4 separate regions of the Homo sapiens genome follow, and all the other regions are linked to region 1. The links come from fine-mapping of genetic effects on gene expression. A gene starts in region 1. Each other region holds a variant in brackets. All regions are shown on one strand. Distances are between the middles of the regions. Region 1 holds the start of PRPSAP1 (phosphoribosyl pyrophosphate synthetase associated protein 1). Region 2 overlaps PRPSAP1 (phosphoribosyl pyrophosphate synthetase associated protein 1). Region 3 overlaps UBE2O (ubiquitin conjugating enzyme E2 O). Region 4 holds the start of ACOX1 (acyl-CoA oxidase 1).

Region 1 (8,100 bases):
AGGGATCCTCCTGCCTCATCCTCCCAAGTAGCTGGGGCTATAGGCTGATTAACTTTTTATTGTTGTTATTGAGACAGAGACTCACTCTGTTGCCCAGGCTAGAGTGCAGTGGCACGATCTCGGCTCACTGCAACCTCTGCCTCCTGGATTCAAGTGATTCTTCTGCCTCAGCCTCCGGAGTAGAAGGGACTACAGGCATGTGCCACCACATCTGGCTAATTTTTTTTTTTTGAGATGGAGTCTCGCTCTGTTGCCAGGCTGGAGTGCAGTGGCTTGATCTTGGCTCACTGAAATCTCCACCTCCTGGGTTCAAGTGATTCTCCTGCCCCAGCCTCCCGAGTAGCTGGGACCACAGGCGCGCCACCACCCCCGGCTAATTTTTGTATTTTTAGTAGAGATGGGGTTTAAGCATGTTGACCAGGATGGTCTCAATCTCCTGACCTCGTGATCTGCCCACCTCGGCCACCCAAAGTGCTGGGATTGCAGGCGTGAGCCACCGTGCCCAACCTGTTTTTTTTTTTTTTTTTTTTTTTTGAGAGGAGGTCTCACTCTGTTGCCCAGGCTGGCACAATCTCGGCTCACTACAACCTCCGCCTCCCAGGTTCAAGCGATTCTCCTGCCTTAGCCTCCCAAGTAACTGGGATTACAGTTGCCTGCCACCACACCTGGCTAATTGTGTGTGTGTGTGTGTGTGTGTGTGTGTGTGTGTGTATGAGAGAGAGATGGAGTCTTGCTGTGTTGCCCAGGATGGAGTGCAGTGGCCTGATCTCAGCTCACTGCAACCTCCGCCTCCCGAGCTCAAGCGGTTCTCCTGCCTCAGCCTCTTGAGTAGGTGGGATTACAGGTGTGTGCCACCGCGCCACCACATCTGGCTGATTTTTTTTTTTTTTTTTTGAGACAGAGTCGCGCCCTCGCCCGGTCGTCCAGGCTGGAGTTCAGTGGCACAATGTCAGCTCACTGCAAGCTCCGCCTCCCGGGTTCACGCCATTCTCCTGCCTCAGCCTCCCGAGTAGCTGGGACTACAGGCGCCCGCCACTGCGCCCGGCTAATTTTTTGTATTTTTAGTAGAGATGGGGTTTCACCGTGTTAGCCAGGATGGTCTCGATCTCCTGACCTTGTGATCCGCCCGCCTCAGCCTCTCAAAGTGCTGGGATTACAGGCGTGAGCCACCGCGCCCGGCCACATCTGGCTAATTTTTTGTATTATTAGTAGAGACAGGGTTTCACCATGTTGGCCAGGCTGGTATCGAATTCCTGACCTCGTGATCCACCCACCATAGCCTCCCAAAGTGCTGGGATTACAGGCATGAGCCACCGTGCCCAGCCTAATTTTTGCATTTTTAGTAGAGACAGTGTTTTGCCACCTTGGCCAGGCTTGTCTCAAACTCCTGACCTCAGGTGATCCACCCACCTCAGCCTCCCAAAGTGCTGGGATTAAAGGAGTGAGCCACCACGCTCAGCCAACACCTGGCTAATTTTTGTATTTTTAGTACAGATTGGGTTTCGCCATGTTGCCCAGGCTGGTCTTGAACTCCTGACCTCAAACTATCATCCGCCTCGGCCTCCCAAAGTGCTGGGATTACAGGCATGAGCTACTGCACCTATCCCATTCCCCCTTTTTTTTAAGAAGGTAACAAGGTTTTTGTCAGGGTCTGTGAGCTGGACATGTGTGCAGTGGTTAAATAATTTGGCCTAGGCTGTGCACCCACTGTCCTTTTTTTTTTTTTTTTTTTTTCTAGAGAGCTATTGGAATAGGGGCCAGGCTGCTGCAGGCTCAGGGCAGCTCAACTTCCAAATCCTGTAGCTTCAGACTTGTGGTCCTTCACGACATGCTGAGTCACAATCTACTGCTCCCTCAAGCCCAATGTCACCACAAGCAGAGTCTCTAAAGGACATTCTCAGAAGATGGTACTGTCAATGTGAGAGGCACCTCTCCTCCCCTCGAGTTCTGGTGCAGCTGATAACTAGAGATCTCAAATGCTTCCCTGGGCTTTACTTTCTACTTCAACAAGTACTGATTGCGGGCCTCTGGAGCCCACACACTGCCCTATACACTGGGTAACACGGAGCACTCAGGAATACACGATCTTGGCGGGGCGTGATGGCTGAGGCCTGTAATGTCGGCATTTTGAATGACTGAGGTAGGAGGATGGCTTGAGCCCGGGAGGTAGAGGCTGCAGTGAGCCGTGATCGCGCCACTGCACTCCAGCCTGGGCGGCAGAGGGAGACCCTATTTCAAAAAATAAATAAATAATAATAAAATTAAAAAAAAAAAAAAGGAACTCACGATGTGGCCGTAAAATGGGTTACATCCTAGTTAGGAAAATAGATGTTTGCAAAGGTACATAAATATGCAAGCATCAAAACAATAACAACAACAACAAAAATTTAAAAAATGCAAGCATCTACGTGTGGCACAGTCCCGCGGGCCGGGCGGCTTACTGTGGTTGAGGTCACCAGAAAGACTGTGGAACAGACGCATCGCGAGTGGGTCTCGGAGGGGTGGCGCATATGGAAAGAGGAGAAGGAGGGCTTTTTTGATTGAAAGCGAATACCGGCAAGAGGGCCTTTGGCACGTTCAGGGAACCTTGCCTTACACGCAGACACAGGGTTGGGGATCTGTTCGGAAACGCCTGAAAGATCAGGCTCAGGAGAAGACCACTTTTTGGCCGCTTCAGTACTGCGGTCAACCAGCTGGAAAGAACCCCCGCCCTCTACTTTTCAAATTAATCTCCGGCCGGCGCACGCGCCTCGTGGGGCGGGCGCTGTGCTACCATAGACATGCAGAGCTAGATCGTATACCTCCTCGGAGGCGGACATGTTGGGTCCTGGCCAAAAAGTTGGAAACACCTGGGGCCACTACCGAGGTAGGCTGCTCCTCCCAAGAAAGTGAGACCGAAAGAGCTCCCGTGGAAGCGGTCAAAGCAGGGGCGGGGCGAACCTGTGACATGCCCCTCGGAAGAACAGGCTTTTAGAGAGTCGCCAGGCTCCCTGCCCTCATCCGAGATGGCGGCCTGAGGGCGCTCTAGCCGACGCTCTTCGGATGCCCGGAGGGGGCGGTGGCCTTGCCTCTGGCTCTGAGGCGGCGGCGCCGGGCGCTGCGAAGGCTCGGCCGCTGTAGTCAGTGGTGTGGGGTGCGCAAGGGCACGGACCTCGGAGCTCTCCCCGCTTGCGCCGAGTTTCTCAGCGCCTTCCCCACCCAAACCGGGGTCTCGCAGTCGGAAGCACTCAGAGTGCAGCCCCGCGCGGGGCCGGTCGTAACCGCGCCGCGGGCCGGACGATGCCCAAGAAGCTGCTGCTGTTGCCCCCGCCCTCCGCGTCCTCGGCTTTCCGCGTCCCGCGCGCCCGCCCCGTTCCCCCGCCGGCCATGAACGCCGCTCGCACCGGCTACCGAGTCTTCTCGGCCAACTCCACGGCCGCCTGCACGGAGCTGGCCAAGCGCATCACAGAGTAAGGGGGCGGTGGGAGGGCCGGGCCGGGGGCGGCGGCGCCTAGCTCTCCTTCGCGCCCGGAGGGACCCGCTCCCCTCCACCCGCCCCACCTCCTGCACCTGGGGCGGGAGGCGCGGGCCTTCCCAGCCGGACAAAGCTTGGAGGTGACGGATACCGCCCCCCGCTCCCCGGTTTTGCAGCTGGGAGGCTTGGGGCGGACTCTCGGTGACCTCAGCCCCCCGCCCCGTGACTGGGTCCGCGGCCTGCCTGCCTTTCGTCTCCGCAGTCCCACACCCCGGGGCGGGCCGAGCTTTCTGGAGCCCCGGAGTGCGTGTCTTGGGGAAAGGGGCTCAGGGCTTGGCTTCCTTTCCCACGGCTGGAGTTGACCTGGGAATCTGACCGCCGCCACTCTCAAGTCTCACTGCAGTGAGACCCGCGGGCGTGGTTGTGAGTTGGGGGATCCGACGCGGCAGGTGCGGTCGCAGAGCAAAGGTGTGGGGACTGGCAGTGCGAAGAAGGCAATTCCAGGGAGGCAGATGGGCCGGAGCTGGTGGTAGAAATGACAGGCCTGACCCTGCTTTGTAAATCAGCTTGGGATAAGATCAGTCATTTGTGTCTTTAACCCAACCAAGCCCCTGGTCTTAAGTCGCCTTTGGGGTCTGACAGCTCTGAGATGCCCTCCCAGCCTTGCCACTTACTAGCTCTGTGTCAGTGGGCAAGAGACTTGATTTCCCTGAACCTCATCTGTGAAATGGGCATGGTTGAGAATATTGTATGATCGGGATAATGTAGAAGTAGTATCTGGTTCTAGCAGAGTAGGGGCTCATAGTGGCCCTCTGAATAGTTGTTTACTAAGTGGCCTCTTTTCTTTTTCTTTTTCTTTTCTTTTTTTTTTTTTTTTTTTTTTTGAGACGGAGTCTCGCTCTGTCACCCAGGCTGGAGTGCAGTGGCGAGATCTCGGCTCACTGCAAGCTCCGCCTCCCGGGTTCACGCCATTGTCCTGCCCCAGCCTCCCAAGTAGCTGGGACTACAGGCACCCGCCACCACACCCGGCTCATTTTTTGTATTTTTAGTAGAGACTGGGTTTCACCGTGTTAGCCAGGATGGTTTCGATCTTCTGACCTCGTGATCCGCCCGCCTCGGCCTCCCAAAGTGCTGGGATTACAGGCTTCAGCCACCGCGCCCGGTGAAATGGCCTCTTTTCTAGTTGGCTCTTTTGGAGAATCCCAGAGCTCTGATATAAAGGAGGAGCCTTATATGCCCTTTCTACATACACTTGTTAGAAATCTAAGACATAAAATGAATAGCTCGTCTTTTAATATTTAAAGCCATTTTCACATTTTAAACAGTTTTCATAGAGTTACTTCGTTACTTTTTTAGGGTTGACAAATGATTGCAGGGATATATCTTAAACTTCTGGGGGGAAATGTAGAAGAAAGGGAAAACTTTAGTCATTTTTTTTTCAGCTCTGCTTGTTTTTTTTTTTAATAGTTGGAGTTTTGGAGAGTGGAAGAATGTTAAAAAAACAAATCAATCCTTTTGCAGTCTACTACCTAGTTTCTATTTCTAACCCCTGATTGTTTGTCTTTCTTTCTGAGGCCAACGAAAACACTGACTTTAAACGAAGCTTCTGTGTGTATCTAGTGGTTCAGATTTACCCTACCTGACCTTGAGGGAGAGCAGAGGGGAGCAGGGCACATTTTAAAAGTCAGTGAGGGTTTTTTTTGTTTGTTTGTTTTAGATTCTTTCCTGGCAAATTCCCGAAAGATTTTGAATTACTATAAATGATACATATTCATAAATACTTCCCTTACCTGTTTTACTTGTCGCTCAGTAAGATTTTGTTTTATCTTATCTGTTTTATTTATTTTGAGACAGTCTTGTGTCACCCAGGCTGGAGTGCAGTGGTGCCATCTCGGCTTACTGCAACCTCCACGTCCCAAGTTCAAGCGATTCTCCTGCCTCAGCCTCGAAAGTAGCTGGGATCACAGATGCCCGACACCACACCTGGCTAGTTTTTTGTTTTTTGTTTTTTGTTTTGAGACGGAGTCTCGCTGTCGCCCAGGCTGGAGTGCAGTGGCGCGATCTCGGCTCACTGCAGGCTACGCCCCCAGGGTTCACGCCATTCTCCTGCCTCAGCCTTCCGAGTAGCTGGGACTACAGGCCCCCGCCACCTCGCACAGCTAATTTTTTGTATTTTTAGTAGAGACGGGTTTCACTGTGTTAGCCAGGTTGGTCTCAATCTCCTGACCTCGTGATCCACTCGCCTCGGCCTCCCAAAGTGCTGGGATTACAGGCGTGAGCCACCGCGCCCGGCCACACCTGGCTAGTTTTTGTATTTTTAGTAGAGATGGGTTTCACCACGTTGGCCAGGCTGGTCTCAAACTCCTGACCTCAGACGATCTGGGATTATAGGCGTGAGCTACTGCGCCCGGCCCACCTGGAGTATTTTTAAAAATTGTTATATACATAACATAAAGTTTACCTTTTTAACCGTTTTTTGTTTGTTTGTTTGTTTTTGAGACGAAGTTTTGCTCTTGTTGCCCAGGCTGGAGTGCAATAGAGCCATCTTGGCTCACCCACAACCTCCGCCTCCCGAGTTCAAGTGATTCTCCTGCCTCAGCCTCCCAAGTAGCTGGGATTACAGGCTGCACCACCACACCCCGCTAATTTTGTGTTTTTAGTAGAGACGGGGTTTCTCCATGTTGGTCAGGCTGGTCTCAAACTCCCAACTTCAGGTGATCCACCTACCTTGGCCTCCCGAAGTGCCGCCTTTACAGGCATGAGCCACTGTGCCTGGCCTACCTTTTTAACCATTTTTAAGTGTACACTTCAGTGGCTTTAACTACATTCACAGTGTTGCACAACCATCACCACTATTCATTTCCAGAACTTTTCATCATCCCAAACAGAAACTCTGTACCCATTAAATACTAAGTCCCCATTCCCTGGTAGCCTCCATTCTACTTTGTCTCTATGAATTGCCTATTCTTGGGACTTCATACAAATAGAATCATAGCGTTTGTCTGTGTCTGGCTTATTTTCCTCAGCATACCTTGTCCAAGGCTCCCTCATGTCATAGCACGTACCAGAATTTATTCTTTTTTTTTTTTTGAGACGGAATCTCACTCTGTCGCACAGGCTGGAGTGCAGTGGCACGATCTCTGCTCACTGTAAGCTCCGCCCCCTGGGTTCACGCCATTCCCCTGCCTCAGCCTCCCGAGTAGCTGGGACTACAGGCGCCCTCCACCACGCCCGGCTAATTTTTTGTATTTTTAGTAGAGATGGGGTTTCACCGTGTTAGCCAGGGTGGTCTCGATCTCCTGACCTCGTGATCCGCCCGCCTCGGCCTCCCAAAGTGCTGGGATTACAGGCATGAGCCACTGCGCCTGGCTGCAGAATTTATTCTTTTTTTAAGGCCAAATAATATTCCATTGTATGTGTATACCTGGCTGGAGTTTTGTTGTTTTTTTTTTTTGAGATAAAGTCACCCAGGCTGGAGTGCAGTGGCACAATCTTGGCTCACTGCAGCCCCCGCCTCCCAGGTTCAAGTGATTCTCGTGCCTCAGCTCCCAAGTAACTGGGATTACAGGTGCCCACCACCACACCCAGCTAATTTTTGTGTTTTTAGTAGAGATGGGGTTTTTCCATGTTGCCCAGGCGGGTCTCGAACTCCTGGCCTCAAGTGTTCTGCCCACCTTGGCCTCCCAAAATGCTGAGATTACAAGCATGAACCACTGCGCCTGGCCTGGCTGGAGATGTTAATTTTATTTTTTTTATTATTATTTTTTGAGATGGAGTTTCGCTCCTGTTGCCGAGGCTGGAGTGCGATGGTGTGATCTCGGCTCACGGCAACCTCTGCCTCCTGGATTCTGGCAATTCTCCTGTCTCAGCCTCCTGAGTAGCTGGGATTATAGACGCTCGCCACCACACCCAGCTAATTTTTGTATTTTTAGTAGAGATGGGGTTTTATTATATTAGTTAGGCTGGTCTCGAACTCCTGACCTCAGGTGATCCGCCCACCTCAGCTTCCCAAAGTGCTGGGATTGCAGACGTGAGCCACCGCACCCGGCCTGGAATATTTTTAAATAGATTATCTTACATCATATCATTTCACTTGTAAAAAGAGTAATGCTTACTAATCAGGACTTAAAACCTCACACTACTATTAATTCCTTAATATTATGTAGTATCTAGTCTTTGTCCATATTTCTCTGATTATTTTTTAAAATGGCTTTTTTTTTTTTTGAGACGGAGTTTTGCTCTTGTTACCCAGGCGGGAGTGCAATGGCGCGATCTCGGCTCACCACAACCTCCGCCTCCCGGGTTCAAGCAATTCTCCTGCCTCAGCCTCCCTAGTAGCTGAGATTACAGGCATGCTCCACCATGCCCAGCTGATTTTGTATTTTAGACGGGGTTTCTCCATGTTGGTCAGGCTGGTCTCAAACTCCCGACCTCAGGTGATCCGCCCGCCTTGGCCTCCCAAAGTGCTGGGATTACAGGCATCAGCCACCACGCCTGGCCAAAAATGGCTTTTTACACTTGGTTTATTCTAATTAGGATCCAAACAAGATCCACACCACATTTGGTCAGAGTGCTGAAGCCTCTTTCCTTCTCTATGCTTTTGATAATTGAGGCATTTATCTCTGGTGTGTGTTATTGAAATCATT
Region 2 (8,100 bases), 40 kb after region 1:
AGAAATAGACAAAGGTCAAAATGGGTAAGGAATGAATTTTCTCATAGTTCTTTTTTGCTGTTTACTTTAGCAGAGGAAGGTTTGGTTAATTGGCTCCCAGGAAAGAGTAAATGTGTGCACATGTGTGCAGGTGCTTGTACTTGTGATGGAAGCGTGCGTAAGGTAAGGAGGGTTGTCAGTGCAGCTTTATTTTACTTGGAAAAGGCTACCTTTAAAAGCAAAAGACAACTTCCTACATCCTTCATAAGAGCATTGGAAATCGTTTGATGAATTGGAAACATTTTCACTGCAGCTGATGTAGTTTTCACAGTGATTTCTGGCCGCAAGTAATGTTGCACAATTCATTTTATTCATGGATTAGATTTTGTTTGATAAAATGGAAAGAGAGAGCAGAATCTAAACTTAGGGTAGTTTTAGCACTCTATTCTTGACCTTGTATGAAAACTGGAATTTTTAGTGTTTTATTTTTTGGGTAAGCTATTCAAAAACTGTTGGCCTGTGAGGTACTAGTCATTTTTTTCTACCCTGTAATAATAAAGTCTGTCTCTGTTTTGTGGCAGCCACCAGATTATGTGTTCACTTTTATTCAGAACCTAAAGGCAGTATCAGCAGGGAATGAGTATATTGGGCAGAAAGGCTTTCATTTTAGCCTTTTTTAGCCTCCCTCCTAGCAGAGCCTAGGTTTTTCATGCGAAACTAACAGTAGTTCTTTGTGGGAGGTAGGGTTGCAAAAAAGTAAACAAATATACTGTGATGTTTTCCGCATCAAACTAGAGCTGAATTTCCATTGATATTTGATGAGAGGTATTGGCTTGCAATCTTTCTTTTTTTTTTTCTTTTTTTTTTTTTTTTTAGACGGAGTCTCACTCTGTTGCCCAGGCTGGTGTGCAGTGGTGCGATCTCAATTCACTGCAACCTTTGCCTCCTGGGTTCAAGCAAGTCTTGTTTCAGTCTCCTGAGTAGCTAGGATTACAGGCGTGTGCCACCATGCCTGGCTAATTTTTATATTTTTAGTAGAGACAGAGTTTCACCATGTTGGCCAGGCTGGTCTTGAACTCCTGACCTCAGGTGATCCGCCTGCCTTGGCCTCTCAAAGGTGGCCTGGCCAACGTGGTGAAACCCCACCTCTGCTAAAAATACAAAAAATTAGCCAGATGTGGTGGCACGTGCCTGTAATCCCAGCTACTTAGGAGGCTGAAGCAGGAGAATCGCTTGAGCCCAGGAGGCAGAGGTTGCAGTGAGCCGAGATCGTGCCACTGCACTCCAGCCTGGGAGACAGAGTGAGACTCTGTCTCAAGAAAAAAAAAAAAAAAAAAAAAAAAAAAAAGCGGATAGGTCAACATAACTGCGTGTTTACATGGTTTAATTTAAAAACAGAATCTCAGGAAGCTGCTCCTAATGTTGGTGGTTTGAAACCCCCCTCCCCCCATTTTAAGTGATTTTATATGCAAAGCCTTCTTGTCTTGCCCAAATTCAAGAAGTTGTCTTTGTTTCTAGGATGTGAAATCAGGAAATATATGTTTGTTGAAATGTATAAAGTAGTGGTGAATTTCAGCTCAACTGATTTGCCAGTATACAGAGAAAAACACCTGTTCTTTGAGATACACAGTGCCTGTTGGGAATCTGCAAAAATTGTTTGTTGGTAGTCACTAAACTCTTGTTACCCTGAATTTTATTCTCTTTCGCTTCCCCCACTACTAGCCTAATAAATATTTCAGAATAATAACAAAGTTTAAAGAAAGAATACTTAGCCTGTTCTTCTGAAGTAGTCTTTGTTTTTCTTCTCTGTTTACTAACCTCCTTTTGAGGATAAAATCTTATTTCCTTTCTTTATCCTGTAGTTTCCTTTGTACACTCATAGCCTTTCTTCAGATGCAGATTTTGCAGTCAGATAAAAGTCTCTACTTTAAGCACCAATTAAATCAGGAAAAGATGATGGGCCTGGAGTTATTGTCTTCAAGTTCCTGATTTTGAGGAAACTCTGATTATGTCAGTAGTGCAGTTATCTGATAGTAAGGTTACACTGTCCAAATAAGGTGACTTTGGAAGAAAATAACATAAAGCCATCTCATGATCTGGCAGCCTTTCGCTGTTTCGCTTTCTGCAGAGCGGCATTCCTTCTGCATGTCTCTGTCAGTCTCTGTGAGAGTGGGGTTTCTATCCACACAGCACTGCGGTGCAGCTTCTCCGTGTTGGCAGAATCTTCCATGCTCTGCTGGTTCGTTGTCTTTCCAGCTGTGCTGTGCAGTGCAATGTGCTGGCTGCTGAGCTCATGAGACACGGCCCGTCTCAACTGAGAAGTGCTGTGCGTATAAAACACACACCAAGTAGAGAAGACTTGATAGGAAAAAAGTGTAAGGCTGGGTGCGGTGGCTCATGCCTATAATCCTAGCACTTTGGGAGGCTGAGGTAGGAGGATTGTTTGCTTCCAGTTTGAAATGAGCCGGGGCAACATAGCAAGATCCCCTCTGAGAAAAAAAAGTGTAAAACATCTCATTAATTTTTATATCAGGTTGGGCGTGGTGGCTCAAGCTTGTAATCCCAGCACTTTGGGAGGCTGAGGCGGGTGGATCACCTGAGGTCAGGAGTTCGAGACCAGCCTGACCAACGTGGAGAAACCCCATCTCTACTAAAAATACAAAACTCAGCTGGGTGTGGTGGCGCATGCCTATAATCCCAGCTACTCGGGAGGCTGAGGCAGAATTGCTTGAACCTGGGAGGCGGAGGTTGCAGTGAGCCAAGATCGCGTCATTGCACTCCAGCCTGGGCAACAAGAGCAAAACTCCGTCTCAAAAAATACATACATACATACATACATACATACATTTTTATATCAGTTACATGTTGAAATTATAATATTTTGGGAATTGCATAAAATAAAATGTATTAATTTCATCTGTTTTTAATGTGGCTACTAGAAAATTCAAAGTAACATGTATGGCATGCCTTCTATTTCTTTTGGCCAATGCTGCTGTTTCTGAGAGATTGCAGGTTCATTGAGGGGGAATTTGCATGGTTTGTTTGTTTTTTGTCTGTATAGTGGTTTTGCCACCATTTCCAGGGAATTAGGTTGTGATTACATTTCTCTAGTGATACATGAATGACTGAGATCTTGTAATTTGTTTTGTTTTGCTAGTGATGATGGCCAAAGAGAAGCCACCGATAACTGTAGTTGGAGATGTTGGAGGCCGCATCGCAATCATCGTGGTATGGTTATATGTCATCCATGTGCAGAGGTGGCACTCCTGGCTCTTGGTCAGTAGGTTGTCCACTCTGGGACTGTATTTCTAGGAACGATGATCCGAATGGATCCATGTATCCTTTCTCACCCAAACTCCCTTGTGCCAAGTGGCAGAAACCTGTATCCAGGTGAACATACATTAAAGTATAACCTACAGATAGGAAATGAGCACAGTACTCCCGTGAGAAAATTCAGCACCTTCACCTTCATCATGTGGATTCTAGGTTCTTTAAACCAGCTCACCTAATCATGCTTGAGCGTTAGGGCCGAAAGATGAACTGAAGATGAGCTGTTCCGTTTTCACAAGTAAGAATGGGTGTCCCCGTGCAGACTCGTTCTGCATGTTGACATACTTTTTTTCCCAGCTCTAAATATCTGCTGGCTAGTGGGTCATGAGTCCTTTGCAGTAGCACACTTTATTTCAGTTTTCTTCTCATGTCACAGTCTATTTGAAAAAAAAATAAATGGAACGCTGGCTATGTGGGATTCACCAGAAACGTGAGACAGGAAAATGAGTGTTGGCAATCCTCAGCTCCAGCCGTAATGTCACAGGTGCTTGACTGCGCCCGCCTCTGACAGACAC[A/T]CAAGGTACTGTCAGGTGCTTCTGTTGCCATTTCTGGATGCTCGTTCTTTGACCCAGGCACACAGCTCTGATTTTCCATCAGAAATCCTCTGAAACTGAGTGCAGAAGAGAGTAGAGTGGTGTGTGCATTGACAGTATGGGCTAGAGGGTGTTTCTTTCCTACCAACTCACTCTGTTCTCCTCCCAGGATGACATTATTGACGATGTGGAGAGTTTTGTTGCTGCCGCGGAGATCCTGAAAGAGAGAGGCGCCTATAAGATCTATGTTATGGCCACCCACGGCATCCTGTCTGCAGAGGCCCCTCGCCTGATTGAGGAGTCCTCCGTAGACGAGGTCAGGCTGCTTCTAAATCTTGAGCCAAGATTTACTGCTGTGTTTTCTGGGAATAATAAAATGATTCAGTCAATACTAAATTGCTTAATCTGTCTATAGCTTTTCTAGCTTTTGCTGGCTAGCAGTTCGTTGGGACAGATACATGTTTAGGAATACAGATAGTCCACGACTTACCATGGTTCAACTTAGAAGTTTTTGACTTTATGATGATGCAAAACCATTGCAATTACGATGTAATGTATAGTATTCGATAAATTACTTGAGACACTTTATTTTAAAATAATCGCTTTTATTATAAAATGAAAGCCTTTGCCCTAGATGATTTTGCCACCTGCAGTCTAATGTAACTGTTCTGGGCATGTTTAAGGTAGGGCTAGGCCAAGTTAATGATGTTTAGTAGGTTAGGCGTATTAAATGCTTTTTTTTTTTTTTGAGATGGAATCTTGCTCTGTTGCCTAGGCTGGGAGTGCAGTGTGGCAATCTCGGCTCACTGCAACCTCTGCCTCCCGGGTTCAAACGATTCTCCTGTCTCAGTCTCCCAAGTAACTGGGATTACACGCGCCGGCCACCAGGCCTAATTTTTGTGTTTTTCTTAGAAACGGGGTTTCACCATGTTGGCCAGGCTGGTCTCAAACTCCTGACCTCAGGTGATCCACCTGCCTCGGCCTCCCAAAGTGCTAGGATTACAAGCATGAGCCACTGTGCCCGGCCTAAATGCATTTTCTACTTAAAATATTTTCAACTTATAATGATGCGTTTATCCAGACATAACCCTGTCATAAGTTGAGAGTTATGTTGAGGGTCTGTATATGTCTATTTGCATAACGGTTTGCTTGGGTACTTTAATTTGACACCCTAGGAGCATTTCTCTTGAGGCTGGAATTCTTCCCTTATGATCTGAGAGTTTTGCATAGCACTGGGGCTCACTGTGTTTCTGCATGGAGACCATGCCATTCCTAAGATTTTTGTCTTGTGTTCTGAGGCCATGTAACTTTTCCTTTGCATAAAATTAGTTAATTTTGGTTTATAAAAACTATACTCGGTGGAACAAGGTTTTGTAGTTTGGAACTTAGGCTGTGGGAACTCAATGTTAGATAAGCTTTTCTGTGTAACCAGCTTGGAGAACAGACTTCAGTAACAGCGTTTGTTTTCCATCACTGTGTGACTAGGTGGTGGTGACGAATACTGTCCCTCATGAGGTTCAGAAGCTGCAATGTCCCAAGATAAAGACTGTGGATATCAGTTTGATTCTTTCTGAAGCCATTCGGAGAATCCACAATGGAGAGTCCATGGCCTACCTTTTCCGAAACATCACTGTGGATGACTAGCTTTCACGAGGGTCTCGACCCTGGACCTCCTGAGGGAAACATGGAAAAAGCAGTGCCATGAGTGATACAGTGTTTCCTTGCAAGGGAGGACTCGAAACAGCCTGGAGTTAGATATCTTCTTTTGCCCGGATTGATGGGGAGGAGGGATTAAAAGAGTCAGGAAGAAGACAGAGCTAATGGATAAATATCATAACATGGCCTTACATGTCTGCTGTCATCAGCCCTGTTCCTTAAAAGTTCTAGCTGCTTTCTTAAAAATAATCTGAAAATCTTATTGATACTAAAGAGGAGTTAAAGGCACATAAAGTCTTAACTCTATAATGTTCATTTAGTTGTTTCAGCTCCAGGGAAATGGAGGTATTGATGTTGAACCTGGTTAGGGAAGCTGAGCGCCTGTGGCCCTATTACTATCCAGTTGGCCTCTCCCAAATCAACTTCAAGTCTTTTATAGAGAATCGTATTTTTCTTTCAGAAATTGTTATGCCTACAGCCATTGAAAAATGAAGCATTCATGTTGTTACATCTTCCAAGGATGTCAGATTAGAAAATAGCATCCCACCTCTGGGTATCTGAGTGGCTCTGAAGTTGCAAATAAAATAATTTGTTGTCTTGCTAGTCTTTTCATTAGACAGCAGAAGACCATGGATACAGAACAGCAGTCAGGTCTGTGGCTGGACACAAACACTTTCCCAGGTTCCACCCTCTTCCTAAGTGTTGAAGCTAAATCCTTGTTGAATACTGTATTTTAAATCTTTAAAAAAAAAAAAAAAAAGTCTAGGTGTGGTGGCTCACACCTATAATCTGAGTACTTTGGGAGGCTGAGGCAAGGAGGATTGCTTGAGCCCAGGAGTTTCAGACCAGCCTGGGAAACATGGCGAAACCCCCATGTCTACAAAAAATACAAAAATTAGCCAGGCATTGGTAGCATGTGCCTGTAGTTCCAGCTACCTTGGGAGGCTGAGGTGGGAGGATTGCCTGAGCCAAGGAGGTTGAAGCTGCAGTGAACTATGATTGTACCACTGCCATCCATCCTGGGTGACAGAGCAACACCCTGTCTCAAAAAAAAAAAACAGGCCAGGGATCGTGTCTTATGCCTGTAATCCCTGCACTTTGGGAGGCCGAGGCAGGTAGATCACCTGAGGTCAGGAGTTTGAGACCAGCCTGGCCAACATGGCAAAACCCCGTCTCTACTAAAAATACAAAAATTAGCCTAGCTAAGTTAAAAGCATAAAAAGACTACAAAGAGGCCAGGCATCATGGCTCACGCCTGTAATCCCAGCACTTTGGGAGGCCGAGGTGGGCAGATCACTTGAGGTCAGGAGTTTGAGACCAGCCTGGCCAATATGGTGAAACCCTGTCCCTACTAAAAATACAAAAATTAGCCGGGTGTTGGGGGAGGGGGTGCACGCCTGTAATCCCAGCTACTCGGGAGGCTGAGGCAGGAGAATTAATTGGTTGAACCCAAGAGGCAGAGATTGCAGTGAGCTGAGATTGTGCCACTGCACTCCAGCCCAAGTGACAGAGCAAGATTCCATCTCAAAAAAAAAAAAAGACTGCAAAGAACTAGTTATTTTGATAACCCCTTAAAGGCCTACTGTGTCCCAAGTTATTGGAATATAATGATGATCGAAAATCCTTCAATTAAATAAACAGTACCTCTCAGGCTGAAGTGAAAAATCTGAACTTGAACAGTAGTTAAAATAGTACAGTTATTCCTTACAATCCATGGGTGATTGGTTCCAGGACTCAACCTCCTGCCCATGGATGTGCAAGTCCCTGATAGAAAATGGTGTAGTATCTGCATATAAGCTATGCACATCCTGGATGACTTGTAATACCTACTGCAATATCCTGTGTAGATGGTGGTCATGCTGTATTATTTAGAGAATCATGACAGGAATCTGTACGTGTTCAGTCGTGGTTGGTTAAATCTGCAGATGCAGAGCTCACGGAGGAGGCTGGCCATGCATGGCACACATTCATAGGTTCTCTTTAAGTAGCCTTGCTGTGCTTCTGTTAGGAAGTTTTATTTATACGTTTTTGGGAAGAATCTTGTATGGGGAAGTCATGTCTCAATTGTTAACACCAGATTTGTCTCGTGCTGTTTAATCCTGCTTTGTAATGAGCTCAAGCACAGGCGCTTGACCAGGTGAGTGGTTTCTTTTCTTTTCTTTTTTTTTTTTTTTGAGACAGAGTCTTGCACTGTCGCCCAGGCTGGGGTGCAGTGGTGCGATCTTGGCTCACTGCAACCTCTGCCTCCCGGGTTGACGCGATTCTCCTGCCTCAGCCTCCCGAGTAGCTGGGATTACAGATGCGCGGTACCATGCCCGGCTAATTTTTTGTATTTTTAGCAGAGGGGTTTCACTATGTTGGCTAGGCTGGCCTTGAACCCCTTACCTCAGGTGATCCACCCGCCTCGGCCTCCCAAAGTGCTGGGATTACAGGTGTGAGCCACCAAGCCTGGCCGTTTTTTTGAGATCAATTAATTTATGGCAGGCTGGGCGCGGTGGCTTACACCTGTAATCCCAGCACTTTGGGAGGCCGAGGTGGGTCGATCACTTGAGGTCGGGAGTTCAAGACCAGCCTGGCCAACATAGTGAAACCCCGTCTCTGC
Region 3 (8,100 bases), 52 kb before region 1:
TAAACTACAAGCAGGGCACCCCTTAACAGTAGGGATTGGGTTTATTCCAAGGTTTAGTTTTGTTCACAAATCTGGTGCTTTCCCAGAGTGGGCACAGTGCCCTCTAGTGTTCACCTGCCAGGCCGGCTGGCACCTGTCATTTGCTCTTTGGAGGTAGAAGGGGAAGTGGAGGGCAAACTGTGCCTAGCAGGCATCCGCAGTCAGTGGCCACCATTGCTGCCTTCCACTTGCCTCAGAAATGAAGAGAGTTTTTCTTTCTTTCATAAGCAGAAGAATCACTGTCTTTAAATGTGTAGACCTGCCAGAAGTCTTTCCCTGTCTCTGTAGCTCTGGGGAGAGATGAGCTTTTTATTTGGTTAAGAGAATGGACTCTGGAGCCAAACTGCCTGCGTTCAGGTCCCAGCTCCACTACTTGTGACATTGAATGAGTTGCTTATTTTCTCTTGGTCTCAGTTTGCGTATCTGCAAAATGAGCATGGCAGTGATGTGCTTCATGGGTTGTGGAGCACCTCATGGGCGAAGACAGTGAAACGCTTGGAGAACTGTCTGCCAGGTAGGAAGCACCTGGTTAGCATGAGGCGAAAAACTCCAGAGCTCTTGCATTCGCCAGGAGCACGTCGGTTCCTTCCTGACGGGGGCACTGAAAGGCTTTGTGAAGCAGGTTGTGCATACGGGGGCAGGGAGAGGAGGACATTTGGAAGTAACTGTTCAGTGGAGTGGCTCACAGATGGGAGGGTATGGGCTTATTTGGAGAAAGCCAGTGCCCAGTATGGGTGGGGTATAGGAAGTTAGGAAGGAAAGTCACAAGAGCCTCCCAAGTCATCCTAAGTCCTTCCACATGCCGTTGTCTTGGGTTCTAATTCCCAGTGGAAGGGAGTGTAGCCACCATGTTACCATCCCCCAGCCCCTTGTCGCTCCCACTCTGCTCCCAGCACCATCAGGTCTTTGGAGAAATGTAACTCCTTGTCATAGAAAGGTCAGAAGAGCCCCTGGAGGCAGCATCCTGGTGAGGTGGAGCTGCTGTTGTCTGGAGACCCCACGGGAAGAATGGCATTTGCTGCCAGCCTCCCTCTCCTGGGAGCACTGGGCACTGCCTGCCCTGCCAGCCTCTGGCCTTGCCATGATGCCAGCTTTCACCAGCTGTTTTTTTCTGCTTCAGCCTCAGAGTTGACACCTCGGTTTCCCCTGCACTCCCAAGGGTGCTGTTAGGCTGAACAGGGTGTTTCATCAGTGACGGCACTGATTTAGGTCTGTGTCTGCGTTCTTCTCTCCTCCTTTCCTGGCTGCTCTCTCAGGGACCCCCAAGTGGTGGAGGCAGCCCTCCTGCCACACATGGTGCAGCCCCCCTTGCATTGGATTCTCCTGTCCTGCCGCTTCTGGCTTCTCTGGGAGCAATTGTGGCTTTTTGAAGTCTAAAATGGGAGCAGGGGATTAAGATAGGGTGGGGCAGCACAAAAAAATGCCGTATCTCAGAGTGGAGATTTGGGCACAGAGGGTTACAGGCACAGAATATTCTTTGATTTAGAAAAGTGGCACCGTCACGCCAGCATGCCTCTCCAGCCTCCTGGGGTCTTGGAGCAGAGATAAGGAGAGCCTGACCTTTCAGGGGTCTTCACCCTGCAGCTCACAGGGCCAGTGATCACAGCTGCCGACCTTGCTGAGCACCTACTCTGTACCGTGCACCATGTGCCACCTGCGGTCCGCTGCCTTGGTGACTCCACCTCAGCCATGCTGAGACAGCTGCCATCATCTCTCCTTCCACATGTCGGCAGGAGTGGTTTGCCTGACGTTCCTGTGTCTGACTCAAGAACCCTGCGTTTAAGGACTGGGCAAGTTGTCATTTGAAACAGGCTCATACCTGGATGCAGTGGCTCACGCCTGTAATCCCAGCACTTTGGGAGGCTGAGGTGGGCAGATCACGAGGTCAGGAGTTCGAGACCAGCCTGGCCAACATGGTGAAGCCCCATCTCTACTAAAAATACAAAAATTAGCCGGGCGTGGTGGCACGTGCCTGCAGTCCCACCTACTCGGGAGGCTGAGACGGGAGAATTGCTTGAACCTGGGAGGCGAAGGTTGCAGCGAGCCGAGACTGCGCCATTGCACTCCAGTTTGGGCAACACAGCGAGACTCCATCTCAAAAAAAAAAAAAAAAAAAAAAAAACAACTTGGGCTCATGAGTTCCCATGGGACTCTCTGCACTGCTGGTTGGTGGTGGGGTTCATTGCTTTTCTTTCCTTTTTTTTTTTGTGAGTCACGTTCTTCTACTAGCAGAGTTTGTTTTAGTTGTCATTGCCAGCATTTAAGTGACCTTGAGCCAGTATCTTCCTTTTTCGGCGACTCAGTTCTCCTTTCTTGGTGGTGACCTCTCAGTGCCCCCAGGTCAAGAGAGGCCACCACGGAGGAGTGTCTGGTTGGCTATTTGAGGAAACAGCTCTCCAGCCATGTGGTTTGGGGTCTCGGAGGTGGACACACACAGAGACCCATCCATGATTATGACCCAGTGAAGAACCATAGAGGAGCTGCCCCAGGTTTGAGGAACCAGCTAAAAAAGACGCAGGCTGGCCTGGTGGGAGCATCACGTGCCTGGGCTTTTGGGCGATGGAGCAGCAGGAGGCAGTGGCCGCTGCCAGCTGTGCGTAAAGAGACAATCAGGTGCTCGTGCAGTTGGCCGGGCTCCAAGAGCCAACCATCCTGAGGGTTACTTAGCAGCCTGCAGGGCTCCAAGCGCAGCAGATAAGGTGCAGGCCGCAGCTGGTCAGGAGGATAACCCAGATTAGAACATGGTGTCCGGTGATAGCCAGGCTTCAGGGTGACCCACCGCAGCCCAGTGTCCTGCTTCTCCCCCAGCCCACTCTCCCTCAGCACTGATCAGCTAGGGCAGGCACTTGCAGAGGGCAGAAAAAAGATTGAACGCAAAGCAAATGTTTTGCTCTCTGTAGAATGGGCTGTTAAATCCTTCATTAAAGTGCAGCCTTATGTGATCTGTCATTGAGCTGCACTGTTCAGTGTGAGGAAGGCTACCTCCGGCAAGCCAAGTGCCTCTGGTGGGTGAGACAGTGACCACAGGGGCCCCAGGAGGCCTGTGGGCGTGACGCGCTCTGCCTGTGGGTCTGGGTGCTGGTCGGAGGTGTGTGCGGTCTGTGAAGATACTGCTAGCCAAACGCTTAGGATTTGTGCACTTAGCAGTGTGGATGTGACGCTTTCCTTCAGAAGCTGGAAGAAAACTGTATTCTGTGGTGGCTTCAGAGTCCATTCTCTCACACCTGTATTTTCTTTTACAGCTGAAACTAGAGGACCGTTCTGTGGTGCCCCGAGATGTGGTCCGGCACATGCGATCCACCGTGAGTCCTGCGTCCCCACCCCAGCCCCGGGCCTGGGGGCAGCCACCTTAGGGACTTGAGCCTGCCCACCTC[G/A]CACTCTGCATGTGGGAGAACTGGCCAGCTCTGCAGGGGGTGCGCTGGGGTTGCCTGGGCTGGGTCTCCCCTGGTGACCAGGGCTGCTGCACCACGGGACTTGCATGTCTCCTCCCTCCCCCAGGACAGTCAGTGTGGCACGGTGATCGACGTCAACATCGACTGTGCCGTCAAGCTCATCGGCACCAACTGCATCATCTATCCCGTCAACAGCAAGGACCTGCAGCACATCTGGGTGAGCCGGCCCTGTCTTCTCATCATCCTTTCTGGGCCCTCTGGTTCTCTCGGCGGCACGACCTCTGGGCTACAGCCTCCTCCGTGCTCTTGCCAAGCACAGCCTTCCTGGGTCAGAAGGCGGAGCACAGCAGCCAGCTGGCTCCTGTAGCCTTGTTTTCGCTGCTTTCAAGTAAGCCATTTAGACATGAGGTCAGGACGTGCCCTTCCCCAACCCCAGCATAGGCTGCCAGTGTGGTTATCTTTAAGTGTTTTTCCTTTCTCCTCTAACATTTCTTTAAAAAAATAAATTATTGGAAATAGTTTATTTTTTTAATGATTTCAAACTTACCAAAAGTTGTAAATTCCTGTGTCCCTCCATCCAGGTTCCTCAGCTGTTAAGATTTCACTTCGTTTGCTCCATCACCTTCCCTCCCTCCTTTTCCCCGAGATCCCCCTCCGGTCTTTTTTCTTCCCAAAACATTTGACAGCAAGCTATAGATGTGATGCCCTGTCACCCACCCCGGAATACACACACCTCTTGTGTGTTTTCCAAAAATGAGGACAGCCTCCTGTGCAACCACCATATAACCCCCAGATTGGGAAATCAACGTTGATAATTACTGTCCAGTCCACAGACCACATGCAGTTGTCCCAACACTACTCTTTTCTTCTTTGCGGATCCAGGACCCAATTCAGGAACACATCTTGCATTGAGTTGTCATCTCTTCATTTTCTCTCCAATCTGGAATCGCTTCCCAGCCTTTCTTTGTCTTCCATGCCCTGAACAGTGATACATTCAGTAATTTGACCCTCAGCCTGGGTCTTCCTGGTGTTGCCTCATGCCCACGTGTTCTTGGCAGGCCCGCCGCAGAGCTCTGCCCTGGTTCATGGTACCCCATAGCCAAAGTGCTGGGGTTGTTCACTTTTACCCCTGGTCATGTTGGTGTCCACCAGGTCTCTCCACCATAAACTCACCATTTACCCCCTTTAAGTGATTGTATTTTGTGGGAACGTAGTCCCAGATTATGTCTATAACCTGTCATTTGTCAAACTGAAATCCACCAGCTTTGGCCTCCATTCACAGTTCCCCCTGCGCCAGCCATTGCTCTGATGTTGCTAAATGGTGGTTCTATGACTCCCTTGTTCCCCTCATTTCTTTTAGCTGGCATTCTGCTCTGTAGAAGAGCTTTATCTTCTGCCCTATTTATGTATTCTTTTTTTTTATCAGTATGGACTTAGAGATTTCTGTTTTATTCATTGGTTATAATTAATTACTACTATTATCTGTTCTGTTGCTTGGATGGTCCCAGATTTAGCCAGTGGGAACCCCTTCAAGCTGGCTTTCATGTCCTTCTCACATGGCCCTTTTTGTTGGTTTTTTAAGAACTTTCTTTCTTTCTGGCATGAGATGTGCCAGGCTCATCTTGTACTTTTTGTGATCCAGCCCCAGAATCAACCATTTCTCCAAGAAGCCTCATTGTTTTCAGAGAATGGTATTTTTAAAACCCAAGATCTGGATGCTAGGTGTGCTAATTGCTACTTGGCTCTTTTGGGACACACTAGGAAATACATATGTATTATATGTATACACACATCTAAATATGTCACTACCTGCTCTATGTGTATATTAAAATATATGAGTTCAGGCAGAGTTCACGGGCGCAGTGGCTCACCCCTGTAATCCCAACACTTTGAGAGGCTGAGGCAGATGGATCACTTGAGCTCAAGAGTTTAAGACCAGCTTGGGCAACATGGCGAAACCCCATCTCAACCAAAATATATGAAAAAATTGGCCAGGCACGGTGATGCATGCCTGTAGTCCCAGCTACTCAGAAGACTGAGGTGGGAGAGTCGCTTGAGCCCAAAGATGGAGGTTGCATTAAGCCAAGATCACACCATTGCACTCCAGCCTGGGCAATAGAGCAAGACCCTGTCTCTAAAAAAAATAATAATAAAGTAAAATAAAATATATGAGTTCATCCTGATAGATCCACTTCCACCTAAACACCTCAGACTCCTCTTCCTTCTTCTCCTTCCTGCTCCCTTTCTGTTAGTAAACACCTGGGCACCTTCTCCAACAATGAGGGACTTGGCTCTCGATATCCTTGATGTGTTAACGTATTTACTCAGAGCACTGTCCATGTAGCCACCCCCCAGTGGTGTGGCTGCCTCCTCTGCCTGCCACCTCCACAGCCTACTTTGCCAGGTGTCCTGTGTCCATGGATGTCCCATGTCCATGGATGCCATCAGGCCTCTCTGCCCCTGCATCACCCACCCCGTTCCCTCCAGGCAGCCCCACCACCACCACCACTTCCTCCTCACTGGGAAGAGCAGCTGGGATGCAGCCTAGAACTTGTAGGGAGGGCCTGCTGCAGCAGCTGTTTAGGGCTAGTAGCCAACCGGTCCAGTCAGTGAGCTGTCTAGATCCTCCCCCATCCTGTCTTCGGTGGGGCATAGAGGAATCTGTGCCCTGGACATGAACGTTGTCTGCTGTGTCTCACTGCCCCTGCCTCCTTGGTCTGCAGCCCTTCATGTATGGGGACTACATTGCCTATGACTGCTGGCTGGGGAAGGTCTACGACTTGAAGAACCAGATCATCCTGAAGCTATCCAACGGCGCCAGGTAGAGTCTCACCACCAGAGAGCCATCGGCTTGGGAAGGATAGCCTCTTGGAAAGAGGGGAGGAGGAGGGTGTTTCCTCCTGGGGACAGTGATGACAGGTTTGATCAAGGGCAGTGACAGATGTTGCAGGCATCCAGGGCCTAACCCTGTACCGTTCTCCTTATCTGCCGTGGCCTATTTCTGTTGCTCAGTTTCTGATCTGTCCTGGCATGGGGAGAAACGTTTTCACTGAGGATATCTGCTAGAGGCTGATGCTTTACTTGAGGCACTGTGATGGTGCTGAGCAAGCACTCCAGTGGCACTTGGGGTCTTGTTCGTTGTGGGAGAGTTTCTTGTACTACCTCGGGCTGAGTTGATGGTAGAAGACGAATTGTGCTATTTAGGGCATGTGGGCGCATTGGCATCTCAGAATCGCAACTTTTTGGTACTCACTGTGTCCCCTGGTGGAGACCAAACCTCTGTTCTCTGTTTTAGGTGCTCCATGAACACGGAAGATGGCGCCAAGCTCTACGACGTCTGCCCGCACGTCAGCGACTCGGTAGTGTGCTCCATCCAGGCCAGCACCCTTCTCTGATTGCTCAGTCCTCTGGAAGGAGGACTTCGTAGCAAAGACCTGGACCCAGCTAAACAGAGCGGTTTCCTAGAAAAGGGGCGGGTGCGCGCCAGAGGGTCTAAAAGTTTGGGTATAGGCAGAAAGTATTAGAACTTTTTTTTTTTTTTTTTTTTTTGAGACAGAGTCTCACTGTCGCCCAGGCTGGAGTGCAACGGTGCGATCTCGGCTCACTGCAACCTCCACCTCCCGGGTTCAAGTGATTCTTTGGCCTCAGCCTCCCGAGTAGCTGGGATTACAGGCGTGTGCCACCACACCCGTCTAATTTTTGTATTTTTAGTGGAGATGAGGTTTCACCATGTTGGCCAGGCTGGTCTCGAACTCTTGACCTCGGGTGATCTGCCCACAGCCTCCCAAAGTGCTGGGATTACAGGCGTGAGCCACCGCGCCCGGCAGTATTAGAACTTTTATTTGCATTTTTGGTAGCTTTTTTTTCTCATCCTTTAAGGTTCCACTTTGTCTCTCTCAGTACAGGATGATGTGTTAGTTACAATAGTACATGGACACACACAGCAAACAAGTAGATATACAGGGGGTGCGTGAGCAAACAGGTTTCAGGACCACTGCTCTCTGGAGTCTTATTCCTCAGAGTATGAGCCCTTGACCAAGGAGCATGGAATGCATCACCTATGTTTGAACAAGGGCGCCAGATGACCTCTGCGGACCCAGGGTTTGGGAAGTGCTGATGTGGAGCCACAGGACTTGTTTTAGGGCGTGTGGGGCGTGTGTGTGAGTGGGCTTCTGCAGGTGGGCAGCCAGCGGGCACAGGCGTGGAGAGCATGGTCACCCATGGAGACACCGCTCACGGGGACTTTCCTTTGGCCCCACATCCCGCAGGGTCTCTTCTTCGATGATTCCTATGGCTTCTACCCAGGCCAGGTGCTCATTGGCCCTGCCAAGATCTTCTCCAGCGTCCAGTGGCTGTCAGGTGTCAAGCCCGTGCTCAGCACCAAGAGCAAGTTCCGAGTGGTGGTGGAAGAGGTGGGTCCGGGCCCAAGGGTAGGAGATGGAGTCCTTGACCTCCACACCCTGGAGCTGAGCTGCTGCCCCTTTCCTTCCTGCTCTTGAGGGTTGAGCCCCGCTCCTCAGCATCTGGACCCTGTTGATCTCAAAGGGCTTTGGGGATAAAGGGAACCCAGGCTCTGGTCATAGTGACCAAAAGACAGATGTGCCCCAGCCCAGCCTGTACAGGCTGAGCAAGGTGGGAGGGTGGCAAGTGGCAGTTCCAGTGGCCCCTG
Region 4 (8,100 bases), 370 kb after region 1:
TACATTTTTATGCAAATGATTGAACATAAAAGGTATGATCTAATGCTGATAGACTGAGTGGGGAGGCCCAGCAAGGCCTGTCTGTCTAGATTCTTCTTGGCCTCTTGGAACAGGCATTCCTTCCTTCTGGGTGTGGGGGAGGACCCTCTCTGGAATGGAGTCTTATGGCCTACAGTCAAACAAGCTAGGTCAGATAATTTCTTTTTGGCCAGTTTTTACACCAAAAGAAGGAGGGAAAGTTAAGAGTAATATATTTAGGGTTTTTTTTGTTTGTTTTTTGAGACAGAGTCTCACTCTGTCGCCCAGGCTGGAATGCAGTGGTGCAATCTCGGCTCACTGCAACCTCTGCCTCCCCGGTTCAAGCGATTCTCCTGCCTCAGACTCCCGAGTAGCCGGGACTACAGGCACATGGCACCTCGCTCGGCTTTTTTTGTATTTTTAGTAGAGACGGGGTTTCACCGTGTTAGCCAGGATGGTCTCGATCTCCTGACCTCGCTATCCACCTGCCTTGGCCTCCCAAAGTGCCAGGATTATAGGCGTGAGCCACCGCACCCAGCTTATATTTAGGGTTTTATGGCTGGCTTTGGGGGTAAATGACTCTGTTTTCTATGACCTGCCTTGGGGAAGAGGATTCTAACTTCTCTGGCTAGGCTCGGGGGAGAATGCACCTGAGGGAGAGGAGGACAGAAGGTAAAAAAAAAAAAAAAAACAACTTGCTTTGTGGGTTGCTTCTGAGGCCTTCATTTTGGGGTATTGTTTTCTGAGACCCAACACTACAAAACAATGGGCTTATACACTTCAAAAGTGTTAATGTCAGCCAGCCAGGCGCAGTGGCTCACGCCTGTAATCTCAGCACTTTGGAAGGCTGAGGCGAGCGGATCACATGAGGCCAGGAGTTGGAGACCAGCCTGGTCAACATAGTGAAACCCTGCCTCTAATAAAGACACAAAAATTAGCCAAGTGTGGTAGTACATTCCTGTAGTCCCAGCTACTCTGGAGGCTGAGGCATGAGAATCATTTGAACCCAGGAGGCGGAGGTTGCAGTGAGCTGAAATCATGCAACTGCACTCCAGCCTGGGTGACAGAGGAAGACATCATCTCAAAAGAAAAAAAAAAAGCGTTAAAGTCACAGAAGAAAAGTTCTTTGTTCTATTCTTGTAATTCTCGTGTAAATTTGAAATTATTTCAAAATAAAAACTCAGCAAATTTAGCTCTTCATCTAAGTCTTTTCTATTCAATGCTAAGTACACCCCTTATCATTGTTACATTAAGAGCAATTGGTTTCCTAGAATATTAGAACTAGAAGGTCAGCTGTCAAGCAGCCATTTGTTCACTCCACAAAGATTTCCTGAGCACCTTTAGCGGGGCAGGCACTGTGCCAGGTACAGAGAATAAACTAGACACCCTCTCTGCTGTTGAAGGGGCCTGAGATCAGCAGCTTAATAAGACAAATGAGGATCCTGAGGTCCTAGGGGTTAAGAGTGTGTATTATAGTTCTATTATTCAAATTATGAATGTTATGCATCTCTCGTAGTTTTACTTCTGAGAAAACCAAAGTCATAGTATTACACAGACTACAGACAGGCTAGGCGCAGCGGCTCACGCCTGTAATCCCGGCGCTTTGGGAGGCCGAGGCAGGTGGATCAACAGGTCAGGAATTCGAGACCAGCCTGGCCAACATGGCAAAATCCTGTCTCTACTAAAAATACAATTAGCTGGGTGTGGTGGCGAGCCCCTATAATCCCAGCTACTCGGGAGGCTGAGATAGGAGAATCGCTTGAACCCAGGGGGTGGAGGTTGCAATGAGCTGAGATCATACCACCACACTGCAGCCTGGGCGACAGAGCGAGACTCCGTCTCAAGAAAAAAAAAAAAAATGACTAGAGATGATTCAACAAATCCCTGAATCTCCCTTGTCTACAATCCCACTGGGCAGAACTGTTTTTGTTTTTTGTTTTTTTTCTGTAGAGACAGGGTCTCACTATGTTGCCCAGGATGGAGTGCAATGTCACAATCTTGGCTCACCGCAACCTCCACCTCCGGGGCTCAAGCCACCATCCCATCTCAGCCTTCAGAGTAGCTGGGACTACAGGCGCATGCCACTACACCCAGCTAATTTTTTGGTATTTTTTGTAGGGATGGGGTTTTGCCATGTTGCCCAGGCTGGTCTTGAACTCCTGGGCTCAAGTGATACGCCCGCCTCGTCCTCCCAAAGTGCTGGGATTCCAGGCGTGAGCCACCGCGCCCGGCCCTACACTAGGTTTTAACAGTAAGTGTGCATTTCCCACTTTGATGACGGTGATGGCGAAAGCAAAGAAGTCTGGATTCCAAGACCTCTAGTAACTGCCAGGTTGCGGGGGAAAATGTCTGGTTTCCCAGACAGAAGGCTTAGAGCAGCACCGCCCGCTTGGTCTCATTCTAAGTCCCCGTCCACCCCTTGAACAGCGCTCACAATCCCACACCCAGGGCCCCGGAACCCACGCCTCTGCCAGTAAAGACGCCATTATCTTAACAAAAGGTAACTGGAGCCTCTCCCCAAAGAGACTGGTTCCCGTCCCATTCTTCTCCAATCCGGGTGGATTTGGCAAAAGCCCAAGTGACCCTCCCTAGCAATTCCGCAAAGCCCCATCTCCCGCCCCAGACTCCAGAGTCTCCCGACCACTCTCATTTCGGAGAGGCCTAGGGGCACGGACCCGGAAGCGTGACAGAGGCCGCGGGGTAAGAGGGGGGCAAGTGCAGGCGCAATCCCTCCTCAGCCTCGTTGTCCCGCCCCCTTCCCAAGGCCCCAGCCAACCTGTTCTAGGCGTCGCCGGTCCTCGGATTTCTTCTTTCCGCCTCGCGTGGTCACGTGACGGGGGAGGGGCGGGATACAAAAAGTGCTTTATTTTCCCACTCCCCGGACGCCCAGCAGGGCAGTTTCTTGACCTTCGGAGCCCCTTTCCCGAGGATCCGCTCGGGAGCCTCCCCTGGCCAGGAGCAGGGGATTAGTCTGCCCCGCGACCGGCCCCAGCCACGACGCGGACATCGCCCCCTCTGTCTGGGCCGCTGTCACTCACGCGCCAAAGGGCCACGGAGAAAGAAGGGGCGGGCCGGGGCGGGCCGGGCGAGCGGAGGCGGGGACTTGCGCCGTCCTGAGGCTGCCTCCTAGGGTCCGGCCGGCGCTGGAGCTGCGGATTTAGATTGTCACTGCCACCTCGGTCGGTGCTTACTTCGCTGCCAGCTGGTCGTCGCCATGAACCCGGACCTGCGCAGGGAGCGGGATTCCGCCAGCTTCAACCCGGAGCTGCTTACACACATCCTGGACGGCAGCCCCGAGAAAACCCGGCGCCGCCGAGAGATCGGTGAGGGCGGCGGGCGAGACCTCCCTCCTTTCCCGAGAAAAGCTGGAGACTCCCTCGATGCGGAGTCAGGGGCGCTGTGGGGCCTAGGCCCTCTGGCCCAGCGTTAGGGGAGCCGGGACCCCCACTTCGAGGAACAGCCTGTGTCCCTGGTGGGGGGATATCGCCATTCCCCAGGTGTGTCCGCGACTCTGAAGCCTATTGTGATTCAGGGAGGGTGGAACGGAGGCCCGAGTGTCTGTCTGCCTTTTAATGCCCTTTAACCCCCTTTCAGAGAACATGATCCTGAACGACCCAGACTTCCAGCATGAGGACTTGAACTTCCTCACTCGCAGCCAGCGTTATGAGGTGGCTGTCAGGAAAAGTGCCATCATGGTGAAGAAGATGAGGGAGTTTGGCATCGCTGACCCTGATGAAATTATGTGGTTTAAAAAGTAGGTATGCCTTAGAACAGAGCAAGTGTTGTTAAGCCTAAACTTTACAGCTGCGGTCTATGGTGGCCTTTCATCACCGTGCTTGGTGTTTGAAGATGCAAACTGGCATATTTTCATGCAACTTTATAAAGTTATATGTGTGGCCGGGCGCGGTGGCTCACGCCTGTAATCCCAGCACTTTGGGAGGCCGAGGCGGGCGGATCACCAAGTCAGGAGATCGAGACCATTCTGGCTAACACGGTGAAACCCCATCTCTACTGAAAATACAAAAATTAGCCGGGCGTGGTGGCGGGCGCCTGTAGTTCCAGCTACTCGGGAGGC[T/C]GAGGCAGGAGAATAGCGTGAACTAGGGAGGCGGAGCTTGCAGTGAGCCGAGATCGCGCCACTGCACTCCAGCCTGGGCAAGAGTGCGAGACTCCATCTCAAAAAATAAATAAATAAATAAATAAATAAAGTTATATGTGTGAAAAATAATGTGATCACTTTTGTATCCAAGCCTTTTCGTGGGATGACGTGTTTGTAGAATGCTGATAATAAATGGAAATGCAGGAGTTTTTGTTCTCAAGAGTACAGTTTCAAGGATGTTGTAAAAGCATTGTTCTGCCCAAGCAACTCAAATTTGACTGATTTAAATGCAGAATCATTTTGCTCTTTGTAAGGAGGACTGCTAAAATTCTGAATCTGGGAGCATTTTTTTTTTTAGTTGCACGACCATTTAAATATTTTGGAGCAATAGCAGATTATATTATATGGTAGTGTGGACCTGGATGAAGAATGATCTGTGACGCCTCTGAATGAATAGAAAGTCTAAGAACCCAGTAGTTCTGAATCCATGACAGTGCTTGAATGGTTGTCTTGTGCATATGAGAGAGACGTCATAAAAACCTGCCTTGGTTCTAGTGTGGAAGAGAGTATATCCTTTTTTCAGACCATGTGTTTTGTTGTGTTTTTTGTTTTTGTTTTTGTTTTTTGAGACGGAGTCTCGCTCTGTCGCCCAGGCTGCAGTGCAGTGGCACGATCTCGGCTCACTCCAGCCTCCACCTCCCGGATTCAAGCGATTCTCCTGCTTCAGCCTCCTGAGTAGCTGGGATTACAGGCGCCCGCCACCACACCCGGCTAATTTTTGTATTTTTAGTAGAGATGGGGTTTCGCCATGTTGCCAGGCTGGTCTCAAACTCCTCACCTCGTGATCCACCCTGCTCCACAAGGAACGGTAAAAATAAATAAAAATAAGGACTTCGGGCCGGGCACAGTGGCTCATGCCTGTAATCTCAGCACTTTGGGAAGCCAAGGCAGGTGGATCACTTGAGGCCAGGAGCTCGAGACCAGCCTGGCCAAAATGGTGAAACTCTCTCTACTAAAAATACAAAAATTAGCCGGGCCTGGTGGTGCGCTTCTGGGGTCCCAGCTATTCAGGAGGCTGAGGCAGGAGAATCCCTTGAACCTGGGAGGCAAAGGCTGCACTGAGCCGAGATCACGCCACTGCACTCCAGACTGGGCAACAAAGAGAGACTCTGTCTCAAAAAAAAAAAAAAAAAAAAAAAAGACTTTTTTGCCTTAACCTAAACAAACACTATTACATGATCCTAGTACAAGATTATTTTGGCCTATAGCATTTTTTTCTCATTTATTCCTGGGCATTTTCTCTTTTAGGTTTCTCCATTTTAAAGGAACTCCAGTATTTTCATCGGTAAAGACTAAATCGTATGAGTGGTGTATAGACTAGAACCAAGCTAAATAGAACATGTTGCACGTTCTGCCTTTATGGTAATAATGGTCACTGCCTCTAGTGCCTTTGGTATCGATTTTCAGCTTGACTTGGGTTATTTTTGTGAAGATGAAATGGTTTACTCTGGCACTTTGGACTTTCCTCAGAGCTCCACTCAGTTTTAAACGAAAAAATTTTGTTTATTTATTTTTGGTAGTTCAAATCAGCATACTTCCAAATGGTCTGTTTTGTTTTTGAAGTTTGTAACTCATGGCTGTGGGGATATTGAGATAGAGTAACTCCTCCTAGAAGATTATGTTACTGATACCTGTGTTGTGTTTGTAAATTTGAAAAAATTAGTAAGATTTTATTCCTTCTTGAAACGTCAGGAAAAAAGTGGGTTGAGTGTGTGTGTGTGTGTTTGAATGGGTGGTGCAGTGCATTTCAAAGCTGATAGAGATGATTTCATAACCTGTGACCTGTTGATAATGTGAACCAGACTCGAGTGAGGTCACAATGAAATAGAACAAAGTCTTTTATGCGGGTTAAAGATTCATGGACACCGGGAAGTTGTTTTGTGTATCATTTTTCATGTGAAGTATTAAAGTACAAACTTTAACACACCCTTTGACACACTTCCAATGTCCTTAGGATATGACAAGGAGATCAGTTTTTAAGTAAGAGAAGGGGTTTGTAAATGAGTCCTGGAAATTATCGCATGCTATCGAGTTAAAGCCTCGGTTATATAATCTCATCGATTATAACTCACACCAGTGTTTTGTGTACCACTAAGAAAGAAAGAATGCTGCCAGTTAACCGTGACATGCTATTAATTGTGAAATACATCACCTTTCTTTCTTTTCTTTTCTTTCTTTCTTTCTTTTCTTTTCTTTCTTTTCCTTTCTTTTTCTTTCTCTTTCTCTTCCTCTTTCTTTTTCTTTCTCTCTCTTTCTTTCTCTCTCTCTCTCTCTCTCTGCATTTCCATTTATTTCCATTATCAGCAGGTGAAGAGGCATCTGCCACCTCACCCAGCTAACTTTTGTATTTTTAGTAGAAATGGGGTTTCACCATGTTGGCCAGGCTGGTCTCGAACTCCTGGCCTTGTGATCCACCCGCCCCTTCCTCCCAAAATGCTGGGATTACAGGCATAAGCCACTGCGCCTGGCTGAGAAAACATTTTTAACTGATGTTAATGAGCAGCTTCTAAACACATGATTAGGACGCAGAAGTCGTTCCCTCTGGTGGAATCTATAATGATTACATTAATTCATTTTGATTAATTAGAAATATTCGTATCTAAGAGCATCCATGTTGAGAGTTTTTTGTTTCTAAGTGGATTATGATTTATGTAAGATAGAAAAGACAATGGGACTGGGGCATGGTGGCTCACGCCTGTAATCCCAGCACTTTGGGTGGCTGAGGTGGGCAGATCACTTGAGGCCAGGCCACTTCATGACCAGCCTGGCCAACATGGCAAAACGCCTTCTCTACTAAAATACAAAATTAACCGGGCTTGGTGGCACACGCCTATAATCCCAGCTACTTGGGAGGCTGAGGCATGAGAATCACTTGAACCTAGGAGGCAGAGGTTGCCGTGAGCTGGGATCACACCACTGTACTCCAGCCTGGGCAACAGAGGGAGACTGTCTCCAAAAAAGAAAAAAAAAGAAATGGCGGGGATAACCGTGTAGTACTTATTTAGGAAATAGAAAAATAAGGGTATATTGTGTTTACTATTATTTCTTTCTTTCTTTCTTTTTTTTTTTTTTTTTTTTTTTGGAGACAGAGTCTCGCTCTGTCGCCCAGGCTGGAGTGCAGTGGTGCGATCTCGGCTCACTACAAGCTCCGCCTCCCGGGTTCACGCCATTCTCCCGCCTCAGCCTCCTGAGTAGCTGGGACTACAGGAGCCCACCACCACACCCGGCTAATTTTTTTTTTGTATTTTTCGTAGAGACGGGGTTTCACCATGTTAGCCAGGATGGTCTCGATCTGATGGTCTCGATCTCCTGACCTCGTGATCCACCCGCCTTGGCCTCCCAACGTGCTGGGATTACAGGCGTGAGCCACCGCGCCCGGCTACTATTATTTCTTTTAAGGTGGTAGTTTGGTTTCAGGGTCCCCCAGCACTGCAATGGCAGCCTATCCCTTCTGTCCTTTAGTTCATGCTCTGCTCATTGCACAGGTTAGGATAAACTGGTAGTAACATTGCTTCCTAATCATGTGTTGAGAAGTCGTGAAGATCAGTTAGATGAGATGTATTTTGTACTTTAAACTTTTTAGATACGAGCTTTGTCAAAGTACAAAATTGATCCCTATAAAATCTATGACACAGCACAGCCAAGGCCAACTACTGTGGATTCTGTTTTGTAAGAAGAGAGTTGAGGACTAAATTTCAATGTGATGTAGAGTTAATCCGTAGTAATGTTCATTGACCATTGGGGATAAATTTTTACATGCCCACATTACTTATTGTAAACCCTGAAGACCTTTAGCGATGTATGATTCTGCCCTGGAATATGTATTTACTCTTTTGGATATTTGCTTATATTATCTAGGGAAACATAGTTGAAATTATTTCTTCCTTGGAGCTCTTGTTAACAGCGCTATAAATAAGTGTTCTATG

What was found. PIP is the estimated chance that this variant, and not a neighbour inherited with it, causes the effect.
Region 2: its variant is fine-mapped to the expression of PRPSAP1 in cerebellum (GTEx, PIP above 0.99). The same link has a PIP of 0.9 or more in cerebellar hemisphere, cerebral cortex and prefrontal cortex.
Region 3: its variant is fine-mapped to the expression of PRPSAP1 in whole blood (TOPMed, PIP 0.95).
Region 4: its variant is fine-mapped to the expression of PRPSAP1 in ovary (GTEx, PIP 0.94).

Annotation. Positions count from the first base shown.
Region 1 is chr17:76,348,883-76,356,982 of GRCh38, reverse strand. It overlaps PRPSAP1 (phosphoribosyl pyrophosphate synthetase associated protein 1), which reads left to right and starts at 3,067. Exons shown (of 10, transcript NM_002766.3): 1 at 3,067-3,449. The coding sequence starts at 3,280. RefSeq lists enhancers at 2,721-2,990, 2,237-3,101, 3,951-4,010, 5,550-6,097 and a silencer at 3,271-3,590.
Region 2 is chr17:76,308,928-76,317,027 of GRCh38, reverse strand. It overlaps PRPSAP1 (phosphoribosyl pyrophosphate synthetase associated protein 1), which reads left to right. Exons shown (of 10, transcript NM_002766.3): 8 at 3,137-3,207; 9 at 4,012-4,158; 10 at 5,328-7,550. The coding sequence ends at 5,486. It also overlaps a transcript of QRICH2 not described here. Among named protein-coding and RNA genes, the nearest start is that of QRICH2, 4.7 kb to the right of the region's middle. The variant A/T (reference allele first, on the strand shown) is at 3,825.
Region 3 is chr17:76,400,754-76,408,853 of GRCh38, reverse strand. UBE2O (ubiquitin conjugating enzyme E2 O) reads left to right here. Exons shown (of 18, transcript NM_022066.4): 2 at 3,282-3,341; 3 at 3,538-3,648; 4 at 6,155-6,252; 5 at 6,727-6,790; 6 at 7,700-7,843. Among named protein-coding and RNA genes, the nearest start is that of SPHK1, 20 kb to the right of the region's middle. The variant G/A (reference allele first, on the strand shown) is at 3,414.
Region 4 is chr17:75,974,206-75,982,305 of GRCh38, reverse strand. It overlaps ACOX1 (acyl-CoA oxidase 1), which reads left to right and starts at 3,140. Exons shown (of 14, transcript NM_004035.7): 1 at 3,140-3,341; 2 at 3,613-3,772. The coding sequence starts at 3,233. TEN1 (TEN1 subunit of CST complex) reads right to left here and starts at 3,066. Exons shown (of 4, transcript NM_001113324.3): 1 at 2,795-3,066. TEN1-CDK3 (TEN1-CDK3 readthrough (NMD candidate)) reads right to left here and starts at 3,089. Exons shown (of 10, transcript NR_037709.1): 1 at 2,795-3,089. RefSeq lists enhancers at 2,578-2,677, 2,799-3,382, 3,248-3,477, 3,383-3,966 and a silencer at 3,098-3,167. The variant T/C (reference allele first, on the strand shown) is at 4,094.